Linked DNA regions of Homo sapiens. The protein of the gene in region 2 purifies or fractionates together with the protein of the main gene of each other region. This does not show direct contact. Each region holds a gene or a part of one and is shown on either strand. Other genes may lie near its edges.

Region 1 (3,646 bases), on a different chromosome or scaffold from region 2:
TTGAAATGTCATGGTCCCATGTCACCCAGGGTCGTAACACGTAATTGTGTGTTAGGAATACACCACGCCATGTATCACTGTGAATACAGAAGGGGGCTAACAGGAACAAGGGGAGGCTACTGCCTCACAGGGTCAGCCTCCTGGCTCCTGCCAAGACCCTTTAGAAGGTCTGATATGCTAATGATGGTTTAACAAGACTTTGAGGCACCGCCCCCTCCTGTATTTGTGATGCTGCAGTCGGCAGTCGGCAGTCCGAATCTCCTGGCTGGCTGTACTCACTGCCGTTTTTCATGTTTTTCTCCAGGGTGGAAGACCAACACACACCTCCCCAGACAGCCCAGCACGCCAGAAACGGCCACCCGCAGGCCCTGCCAGCCGCTCACGAGGCTGTCTACAGGGAGGGCAAGCCCAGCACCCCGGAGTCCTGCGTCTCCTCTTCATGTAAGAATGTGGGCAGCACACTGGGTCAGTTCTGGGATTGTGATGTCTAGAACCTACGCAAAACAGCAGCAGGAGTGGCAGACGCACGTCTGCTCCTGGGAAGCCCTCTGGTCTCAGCAACAGCCCCGTGTCACAGAGGCTCACGGGATTCCCAGCCCACAGCCAGACCCATGCTGGGCTGGTCCTCTGCGTCCCCTTCTCAGAGCACTGCCTGTTGTCCCGTCTGGGAGCTCCTGGGGCAAGATTTCTGACTGGTGAAAGCCGGCTTTAATGTGAAATTTCGGAGGAGGAATGCCGGGCTGATGTTGATCTGTGACCCTGATTCTGATAGCTCAGATTCTGGTGCAGAGAAGGCCAGCCGCCTGCTGGAAGGCTGGACGGAGGCAGAAATGTGCAACTAAGAGCACAAACAACTCTGGGATCCAAACGCCTTTGAAACTTCCAGCTGAGTTAACCAGAGGCTGATGGGAGATAAAAGTATTTTTTAGATGCCAGAAAAAATATATATACTTTGAATCAGAAATGTACAAAGTATTTTTTTTAATTTTTGAAAGGAAATTAAAAGGATTATGAGCAGTTCAGATAAGACTCTAATTTCCATTTGAGTAGGAAAAACAACAGAGGAACGGGTTGGATTCCTGTCTGAGAAACATCTGAGAACTTGCATCTGCTCACAATTGGATTCAGACGCTTCCAGGCCCAGGTGCAGAGCGGTAGCTAGTGACGAGTCAGCACTGGCTGGGTTATTTGCAACTCCTGGGTCTCTTGGTGATGAGCAGTTTCAGAGGTTTTGCCAGCGTTGATCATCAGTTATTTTACATGTGCTTTACTAAAGCTGTAAATATTAATATGCTCTCCAAAGGTGAGCAGCTTAGTAATTTATCCAGAGATTTCTGCTGCCAGGGTGGAGGTCTTAGGGGGCGTCTGAAAAGTTTTGCCAATTTGACTGAATGCCATTGAGTTAAAACATTTCAAGTTCTTAGGCCTGGACTTCCTGAAAGGCTCCACAGTACATTCAGGGTAACGTAGCGGTAACATCCTTGCTTTACCAAAATGACCACTGAGAGGCCCTTTATTTTTGCACTGATTGGACGTGCCTTTGGGAAGCTGTCATGCTGTTACCTGCAGGGCGGAGGCACTTGAGGTTGGCATGGATGGAAATGGCCAAGGAGCAGCTGCTGCAATGTTGATGTTATTGTTGTTTTCAAGAACAGTTTACTTTAGCCCTGACAAAGTCTGGGCCCAGGCACATTCCGGGTTCTTGCATGAACAGGGTGGGCACCCACCAGGACACTCAGCCTTGGTGGTCACGGGCGGTTGCCAGTGCTTCTTCCTAGGGAGGCAGCAGCTGCCCACCAGCCCCCAGATGGACCGGCTGGAGGCAGAGCAGTGCTTTTCCCAAATCCCGCTGTCAGTGCCCCCATTAACCTGCCCCAAATGCTGAGACCGTGTTCTGAGTGTCCCTTCCTTAAGCCTGCTCCTATTGGCTCAGCCTGGCTGGGACCCAGGACACGGACCCACGCAGCCCTGCCCTTCTCCACCTGCCAGAGACCAGGAATAGTCACTGCCCTCCCTGGCCCTGCCAGGCCCGCTCTGAGCCTCAGGCCAACACCCCTAGTCCTCCTTTTATTTTATTTTATTTTACTTTATTTTATTTTATTTTGAGACAAGGTCTCACTCTGTCCCCCAGGCTGGAGTGCAGTGGCCAGTCATAGCTCACTGCAGCCTCACATTCCTAAGCGATCCTCCCGCATCAGCTTCCTGAGTAGCTGGCACTACAGATGCACCACCATACCAGGCAAAGTGGTTTTCTATTTTTTGTAAAGACGAAGTTTGCTGTTGCCTAGGCTGGTCTTGAACTCCTAGTCTCAAGTAATCCTCCTGCCTGAGCCTCCCAAAGCACTGGGATTACAGGCGTGAGCCATCATGCCTGGCCCTCTTAGTCTCCTTTAAAATCCTTTTACTTGACAAAAAGTTCTTCCTTTGGAAAAACCAAGCCCCAGGTGCAGTTTCCTCTGGGTCATGAGTAAGCCTTTGCCACGCTTGGAGTAGATTCCATTCTGACCTTCTTTCAGACAGGCCTGCCCACGGCCTGTTGCGTCTCCCCAGTTGGCCTCCCTGCCCCTCTCCCTGTCCTGTCACCTGCCTCTGCCTAAGGGATGGATGGCAAACAGCCCTCTGCTTCTGTGCTCCATCTGGGCTTTGCAGATAGGGGGACTGCGGTTAAGTCCATTAAGCCAGGGTATGAATGAGGGGGAGGGGGATGAGCAGCAGGGACAGCAGGGAGTGGGCAGTGCTGGGCTGGGCATGGGCACCCCTGAGCCATGTTGCCTTCTGCTTCATTCCTTCCCTGCTCAGGAGCTTGCTCTGACTTCCTCCAGACAGTCCTGCTTCTCCATCCCTCCCCTCCACTTCAATTGATTGATTGATTGATTGATTGATTGATTGTAGAGAGAGGTGTCTCTCTGTGCTGCCCAGGCTGGTCTTGAACCCTTGGGCTCAAGCGATCCTCCCGCCTCGGCCTCCCAAAGTGCTGGGATTACAGGCATGGGGCCCCCTCCACTTCCCTTCTCTCACTCACCTTGCCCCAGGCCCATCCTGGCCCCAGGCAGCGCTCCCCACAGGTCTCCTTGCACACAGCTCGCTGCTGAGTCTGGCCTGTGCTGGGAACTAACGCCCCACCCAGAGACCCCGTGGAAACCCCCACCTTCACGCTGAGTTTCTTGAGGAAGAGCCTTTGCGCTTTGCGTTCAGTCAGCACCGCAGGGAAAACTCATGAGGAGGAACCTGTTGGACCCTCAAACTGCTTGATCGGTTGAGTGCAGGCCCAGAAAGTACATTCTAGGCAAAAGACAGCCCCAAATGCCAACAGGAAATAGTTCCCAAGGGAAAAGGCCAATAATATGGCTTAGCATTTTGCAGAACGTTGGCCTAAGGAAAGCTATTCTCATTTCCCCACCAACCAGGACTATCTTCAATATCAAAATCACATGCCTTGGGACTTCATAGCCCTGGGAGTTAAAATGCCCAGCCCTGTCTGAAATGGACCAGCAGGCAAGAGATACTACTGTCCCAGGAAGACCCCGGTGCACACCCATGGCTGCCCCATCTCCTAGCTCCTGGCTGTCTTAGTTAGGGGGGTCTCCTGTTTTTTTTTTTTTTTTTTTTTGAGATGGAGTCTCGCTCTCTCACCCAGGCTGGAGTG
Region 2 (3,646 bases):
CCCACATCTATATCAAGATCATCCAGGAAAAATACATCTGGGGAACTCAGCAACGCTCACTATATTTCAGACTGACACACTCTGATTTTCTTTACATTTCAAAGAGGCCAGGCATGGTGGCTCATGCCTGTAATCCCAGCTACTCTGGAGGCTGAGGCAGGAAAATTGCTTGAACCCAGGAGGCGGAGGTTGAAGTGAGCTGAGATTGCGCCACTGCACTCCAGCCTGGCAACACAACGAAACTCCATCTCAGAAAAAACAAAAAGAAAGAAAGAAAGAGAGAAAGAGAGAAGGAGAGAAGGAGAGAAGAAGGAGAGAAAGAAAGAAAGAAAGAAAGAAAGAAAGAAAGAAAGAAAGAAAGAAAGAAAGAAGGAAGGAAAGAAAGAAAGACAATCATCTATCCACCCTCCTCTTAAACTTTCTAAAGTAGGGGGATGCATACCCTGGATAATATCTTTCCTCCTCCTGGCATGAGGCAACCAATAAAAGTTTTGTCTGTCAGTGCAGATTTCAGCACGAAATGGAACAAGCAGAGATAGAGGGAGACAGTAAGAATTCCACAGCTGACCCTACCCCTTACCACCTTTATCTTTGACCATACTCTGTGTTGGGGCCCTGTGGCCTATAGAAGCAGATGAGGGACAGAGTGATGATCTAGGCTTCTTTATCATAAGCAGAAGACACCAGATCCTACTCTTTAGGAAACTAGCTGATAGCCAAGGACATCTGAGATCCATACTCAGGAATCACAGATCACATGAGGTTATTGCTGTTGATGGTATCCAGAGTCTAATATTTGGGGATAAGCAACTATCACCAAATATCCTACAGCCAGAATAAGCAGTTTGTAAAAAAGAAAGGCAAGAGTTTTCTACGGTGGCGGTTCACCTGCTGATCCAGAGGCTCTGTCGTTTTTTTCTGCCCCTCCAGAGAGCTGTCAGCCAGCACTTTTTGTTTGTTGCTTTTCAGACAAGGGTCAGGTTCTTTGCTTTCATTCTGGGAAAATTCGTTGAAGTGTAGTACCTGCATGATAACGGGATGGGGTCTTTCAGATAATATGAACAGAGGGAAGCCTGAATAACTTCAGAAACATTTCATAATGAGACAATGGCAATGATTACATAGTCAAACAAAACAATCAACAACAGTTTAAAGGAAAGTGGGTGCTTCTGTACTTGGGTTGGGAGGTGGAATCGAGGAGAAGAACCAACCGCTACCCTGGGAGAGCATTTATGAATAAATATAACCAAACTAAAAGAACATAGAGGTATCCACAAGCTAAATGTAACTATGGAGCATTTCATAGATACCCAATCTGAATTGACTGTAAGTGCAAAATACACACCAGATCTTGAATATAGTATAAAAAAATAAATAAATAAAATAGCTCATTAAAATTCTTATATTGATGATATGTGGATATGATATTTTGCATATACTAGGTTAAAAAATTATTATTAAAATTAGTCCCACCTGTTTCTTTTTACTTTTGCAATACAGTTACTAAAAAATTTTAAATTACTATGTGGTTCTCATTATGTTTGTGTCAGACAGTGCTGATCTAGAGTTTCACATGAATCAAGGGAGTGAGGACAGCAAAAGACAAGTTATCCAGAGCCTGGTAGAAAGGTAGGAGACAGGCGTCATATCCTGCACTACTCAGACCCATTTGGTCAGCAGGTGCCCTCAACTGCCTAAGAAAGAACATCTGAATTCTGCCCTGCAAGATGCAAACCACACTCTAAAGCTAAGTTTTGCTAATGGAATAAGAAAATAATACACCAAATCTTAGTAGATGAATAAAGCAGAATGACCCCAGAAACACATTCTGTCTTAATCCATAAATTCTACTGCTCCATATTCAGGGGAAACAGCCTGAGTTGTGCATAACCCCCGCACTATGTGCTACATCCAAGGAAGTATAAGGCCAACCATGGGAACTTGTAGTTTATTTGGGGATTTGTTCTTATTACCTTCATTTATTTATTCTAGAAATGTTTATTAGGTGCCTACAAAAGTATCCCTTATGGTCTGGAGGTCAGGATGCAGCACTAGATTAGGAGGTCAAAGTAGGCCCCGTATAGGAGATAAACACTGATCAAAGTCTTGAAGAAGAAAGTGAGCTGAGGTCAGTTACCAGGGGAAAGAGCCATCAGGCAAAGGGACCGAGAGCAAAGGCCCCAAGATAGGATGGGCATGACTTACCCAAGGAAGCCAGGAGGCCAATGTGACAGGTACAGTGAGGAGGGATGAAAGTGAGAGATGGAGTCACAGGGCTTATCTGGGATTCAGATCTCCAGATCCTTGTGGGCCATTGTAAGGACTTGAACTGCTATCATGAGTGAAATAAGAAATCCAGGTTTTTGAACAGATGAGAAATAGAATCTGGCTCAGGTTTTAAAAGGGTCTCTTGGACTGCTGTGCAAAGGATAGATTGCCAGTGAGAGCAGGAAAGCCCATCAGGAAGTTGCTGCAGTATCCAGGTGAGAAAAGATGGTTGTGGTTCAGACCTCAAGGAGACTGGGAGAAGTGCCTGGATTATGGATATCTTTCAAAAGAAAAGCCAACAGAATTTTCTAACAAATGTGGTATAAAGTGAGAGAGAAAGAGTCCAGGAGGACACCAAGCTCTCTAGCCACTGGAACCATATATGGTACTTAATGAATATTTATTTAATGAAATGAGTGAGACAGAAGACATATACACATACTAAAAATCGCTAGCAATATTGGTATTAGCAATCATAGAGTAAAAGAGTGACAGACATGCATACAGAGATAAAGATAGAGATGAATGAGAAAAGCTGCCAGACATGAAGTTGAGGAGCACCCTAAAGAAGGTACAAGTTTAAGTGAGACTTTAAGAATGGTAGGATCGAAGAGGAAGTAAGATGGAGAAAATACAAATAAAGACTCAGAGACAGGGATGGGTTCTGACCAAGCCCAGGGTGCAATAAGCCCCTTGGCTTGCCTAAGTGGGATTAGGGTCTGACTTTGAGTGTGGACCCAGAGTTTAGGACCCTGTGTAGCACCCTAGTGGACACGTACCTCATCAATCTGATGTGCACTGTCACTTCTAGCACCCAAGCGTACCATACCAAGGGCAGCTGAGAGGCTCAGGGGAGAGAAAAATATGTTTTTATGACGATCATCTTTGCCTATCTCTTGAAAAAGATCAAAGCAAAATTTGGTGTTTGCTGTAACAAGAGAGTCCATTGTAAAACTTATAACGATCTAAAACCAAAAAAAAAGGAGAAAGAGAAAATGGTGATTGGAAGAAAATAAGTGAACAAACAATTTTATTTTACATACCTGAAATACAATCATGCACAATTATTCAGTATGCTATTAAGAACTGGAAAACTAAGGTCATTATCATCCCTGTATATAAATATTGGTGTTGATATTGATAGACAGAGATCTATTTTCATTTAGTAGTGTGAATTCGTTTCCTGGGGCTGCCATAAGAAATTACCACAGACTGAGTGGTTTAAATAGCAGGAGTTTATTCTCCCATGGTTCTGGGGGACAAACGTCCAAAATCAAGATATCAGCAGATTTGGTTCATTTCAAGACTCTCAAGGAAAATCTGTTTCATGCCTCTCTCTCAGCTTGTGGTGGTTGCCAGCAAACTTTGACATTCCTTG
Region 3 (4,162 bases), on a different chromosome or scaffold from region 2:
AGAGCACCCTGGCACCACCCCCAGGGCCAGGCCATCGAGACTCCATCACCAACCACAGGAAGGTCTCACCTCTAGGAGAGCTTTTGCTCTCTGGCCACTGTGCTCTGAGTGGGCTGAAATCTTCACCATGGTTCACCTGGCTTTTCCATCAGCTGCATTTGATGTTTCCCTTTGCATTTTGACTGGGGGAGGGGACAGTGTGTCTGCTCATAAGCAGAAGAAAAAGCACCAGGCAGACACATGTTTTCCTTGGGGCAAAAAACCTCAAATACAAACCCGGACTCTCTGTCGGAACAGTGGGGGTTTATGGAAAGTTAAGGGCCTTTTACTTTGCAAAGTTTGACTGTCTGAAGGTGTTTTCTTCCCCTGCATATGTGTTTCTTCTACATCTGGGACAAAGGCCAAGGTCATGGAGGAGAGTCCAGTGGTTCCAAGTGGACCCCGGAGCTTGAGGGCCTCTTGAATCCCAGCTCTACCTGTGACCAGCTGTAGGCAAGTCACAATCCTCTCTGTGCCTGTTTCCTCATCTTTAATATGGCAACAATGGCAGTACTTACTTAACAGGGTATTTGTGTGGATTTAATGAGTAAGGTATAAGGGCTTAGATCAATGCCTCAGATCAGGCCCATACAAAACTACTTAAGTGTTACCAATTATCTTAAGTCTGGACTAAACCTTTTCTTTTAACTACAAGCTGGTCAGAAATGCTGATATTTTTCTGTAGGACAGGGCTTCTGGACTCCTTCTGCAGGACTAAAGTCTAAGGTCAGATAATGGCCAAAGCTTGACAGAGTTGGGTGATATTCTGCCTGGTTAACCCAGCTGCCCTCTTGAGGCAGGTCCAAGCAGATAAACTAACCAGTGCCAGAAAAAGTGAGAAGGAAATGTTATCTCCCAAATCAGGTCCAAATCAGGTGTGAAACTGCATATCAACTGGGTTCTTTGGACAGCAGCTGAACTGGGGGACATGCACGTGCATGCACACACACTGCTATGCTGTCCTCCTCCAAGACCAGACTTTTACAGTCAACTCATCACTCTACTCTCAAGTTTGAAAATTTAACATGTTATTAGGGTTTCAGAAAAAGCCATAAATTCAAATAAAAAACCCAAGAAGTACACACAAAGCCCAAACCCCAAACCCACATTGACCCTCAGCTGCAGCAGTGATGCCAACATCACGGCCTTTATGTATATAAATTTAGCTGGGGAAGGAAGAGGCCTTCATGTACAAAGGTCCAACATGCCATCTGCCAAGCCCACCACCTTCGCCTTTCAAGCTGCTTATTAGAACGCTAAATTACACATCCGACAGGCTGTCTGGATGAGTTTTCTCTTCTCTATGATGTGGGAGAGACGAAGCTGGGGAGAACATCTCTTACAGGGAAGGGGCCCCCTTCGTTCTGTCCTCCCTACCCCGTTCCTATACTTAACGATTGGCTCTAATTTAATTAGAACCCTCTGGTGGTTCTGTAATGGGAGGCAGAGGCTGTCAAGAAATCACCTTCACTATTCACTACAAGCTGAAATTTGGAGAGCGCGCAGATCCGGGGGTGTCCTCCAGAGAAAGCCCGTCTCTCCTGCTCCCTGTCTCCCCCTGAGAACCTGCTCCAGCGCAGCCTCCCCTTCTCTGCCCCAAAAGTGGGGGTGGACCCGGTGGGAAACAGGCAGGGGACAGATGGAGGGGCGAGAGGGCGGGTGTCCCAACACGCACAGATGAGCAAATACCCAGATTGAAACGTAAGCTGAATGTAATTACTTGGTTAATTAAATATTGACTTTTAACTCAAAAAGTGATTAAAACAAGCTGCAGGAAGACTTTCCAGAAAGGGGGGCAGGGAATGAATCAAAGCTTTCAAGGGGGAGGAGGAGGAGGAGAGGGTCGTCACAGGCAGGTCTGGCTTGCTCTTCCTACTGTGTGCTGGGCCTACTGCGTGCAGGTGGGGGAGTTGCGGACCGAGGCCAGTGTGCAAACTAGGATTGCAGGCTTCCCTTTCCATCTTCCACCCCGAGACGGCATCTCTCTACCCTGCTGCCCTCCCAGTGAACCGGCAGCTTCTGGCGCGCAGGAGCCAGATCCTGTTCAGCCGCGTTTCCCTGGAACAGAACGCGGTGCCCGGCACGAGGGGGTGCTCCAGAAATGCTTGTAGAACGAATGAACGAACTACTATAAGGAATGTTTGGAAAAGTGCACTCCTAGAATTCACCGCTAGACTTCTGAAACCCCGAGGAGCCGGGGAGGGGAGCATCCCTCCGCCAGGCGATGGAAACTCGTTCTGCCCTGGCCTGGGAGGAAGTCTGCCTTTTCGATCCTGTTTGTCCTTTCGGTGTCTGCGAGTTTCCAACCACTCTGAAGATCCGGCCCACTGCTTCCCCGAGTCCTGCCCGGACAAGCCCCACGTGGGCTGGCATCTACCGGTCCCTTGGGTCTAAACCCTAAGGGTCAACAAGGCCATGCCCCTGCGGATGGCCGGCCCAGGCGCGCTCCCCTACCCGGGGCCGCCTGTGCTCGGTGTGCCGTGTCCGCGGGTCAGGGGCGCGGCGGGAAGTCCTCGCCCGCCCGCCAGCCAGCGGGGTCAAACAGGTCATCCCTCTGCGGACGGCCGGCGCCGGAGCCTCCCTCCCGCCCGCCCGGACCCACCTCCGCAAGCAGCGCTGGGGCTGGAGCCGGGCGGTCCGGACCAGCCCCGGCTCACCTGGGCGGCGCTCGCGGCCGGGCTCACGCCGGGGAAGGCTCCGGCCGCCGCGAGCCCCCGCCCGAGCCCCGCGTCCCCCAGCCACCCACCTGCCCCCCACGCCCCACTCACCAGCGCGCACGGCCCCGGCAACCTCACCCGGAGCGGGGCGCCGCCGCCGCCTCTGCCGCAGCCCGGCCGGGCCGCTGGGCGCAGGGGACTCCGCGCCGCCGCTGCCGCTGCCGCCGCCGCCGCCGCCGCTGCCGCTGCTGCATCCCCCGGCGAGCGCTGCTGCTCCTCCTCCTGCCTCCTCCCCGCCCCCCAACGCCGCCGCCACCGCCCCCGGCCCCCTCCCCGCGCGCCGCCCCAGCCAAAGTCCGGCTCCGCACCCCGCCCGGACCGCTCTTAAATCGCCCCAGCCCGGCCGGCCACGCTGCCCCAGCCAGCCCCTTGGCACGGCGCTACCGCCCCCCGCTCGCCTGCCCGCCGGCCTCCACGCAGGGGAGGCGGGCGCGCTCCGGGGCGGGGAGCGTCGGGCCGGGAGCCGCGGACGGCTGGGGCCCGGGGCGCGGGGGGCCCAGCCGCGGTGCCCTCCTCGAGCCCTCCGCGCGCTAGCGCTTTTACCTCCGGCCTGGGGGACGCGCGGCCCGCGACCCGGCCCTGCCTGTCCCCGGCGCACGGCCCCGGCCCCGGCCCCGAAGTCCAGCTCCGGACGGGGCAGTGAACGCAGAGCTGGGGTCCCGGCGGCTCTCGACCTCCCGATGCCTCCGGACTCGGCTGGCCGCGCTCCCGGCGCCGAGCGCGCACCCTCGCCGGGACACACAGACGCACACTCACTCGACACACTCTCGCTCCTGCTCGCCCTCGGCGGAGAGTTGAAACAGATGTGGGATTCGCCCAGGAGCTGGAAACGAGGGAGGGAAGCGAGCCAGAGCCTTGTGTGCACGTGTGTGTGCGTAACACACAAACCAGGGGGCATCGCTAATAAATCAAATATCGTGATAAATTCAGGAGGGCCATCGATCAGGTCCACTTGGCTGGAAACGACGTGAATCTGCCTCTTTTCCGCTTTCTTCTTCTCCTCTCTCGGAGCTGGAGGGAGCCAAATGTTCCGCGGGGAGTGCGACAGCCCCGGCCGGGCGCTCCCCTCGTAATGACACGTTAATAAATGTTTTCTTTTATCTGCTTTCACAGGACTCGCCCCGGTCTGCAAACACTCGACTGCCTTTGCCGAAAGCCTCGCGCTCGCCTCCAGCCACACACATTTGCCATTGGAGAGGCCGGCGCCGGCCGCGACCCGCAGCTCAATCGCAGGGCAAACCGAGCTGCCTGTGCGCGCCCGAGAACTCCCCGAGAAATTAACTTCGGCTCAAGTGAAAATAGCAGCTGTTGTCCAGAAATGGCCCGGGAGTAGCATAGAAAGGAGAAACCGGCTTCCTCCGAAAGGGGAGGAATTGGACTCAAGGGGGTGCTGTCTACCGTGGTTT

Evidence for each region.
Region 1: the proteins of SERPINB12 (region 2) and ARMC9 purify together in Homo sapiens (co-immunoprecipitation; one large-scale study listed by IntAct). This does not show direct contact.
Region 3: the proteins of SERPINB12 (region 2) and SULF2 purify together in Homo sapiens (co-immunoprecipitation; one large-scale study listed by IntAct). This does not show direct contact.

Annotation. Positions count from the first base shown.
Region 1 is NC_000002.12:231,355,494-231,359,139, forward strand, and holds part of ARMC9 (lisH domain-containing protein ARMC9), read left to right. Parts: intron 1-304; coding exon 305-441; intron 442-3,646. UniProt on the Homo sapiens protein: Involved in ciliogenesis. It is required for appropriate acetylation and polyglutamylation of ciliary microtubules, and regulation of cilium length. Acts as a positive regulator of hedgehog (Hh)signaling.
Region 2 is NC_000018.10:63,555,729-63,559,374, reverse strand, and holds part of SERPINB12 (serpin B12), read right to left. Parts: intron 3,234-3,646; coding exon of another isoform or gene 3,216-3,233; coding exon 3,048-3,215; intron 1,024-3,047; coding exon 889-1,023; intron 1-888. UniProt on the Homo sapiens protein: Inhibits trypsin and plasmin, but not thrombin, coagulation factor Xa, or urokinase-type plasminogen activator. May play a role in cell differentiation.
Region 3 is NC_000020.11:47,782,536-47,786,697, forward strand, and holds the start of SULF2 (extracellular sulfatase Sulf-2 isoform a precursor), read right to left. Parts: upstream 2,947-4,162; 5' UTR 2,808-2,946; intron 1-2,807. UniProt on the Homo sapiens protein: Exhibits arylsulfatase activity and highly specific endoglucosamine-6-sulfatase activity. It can remove sulfate from the C-6 position of glucosamine within specific subregions of intact heparin.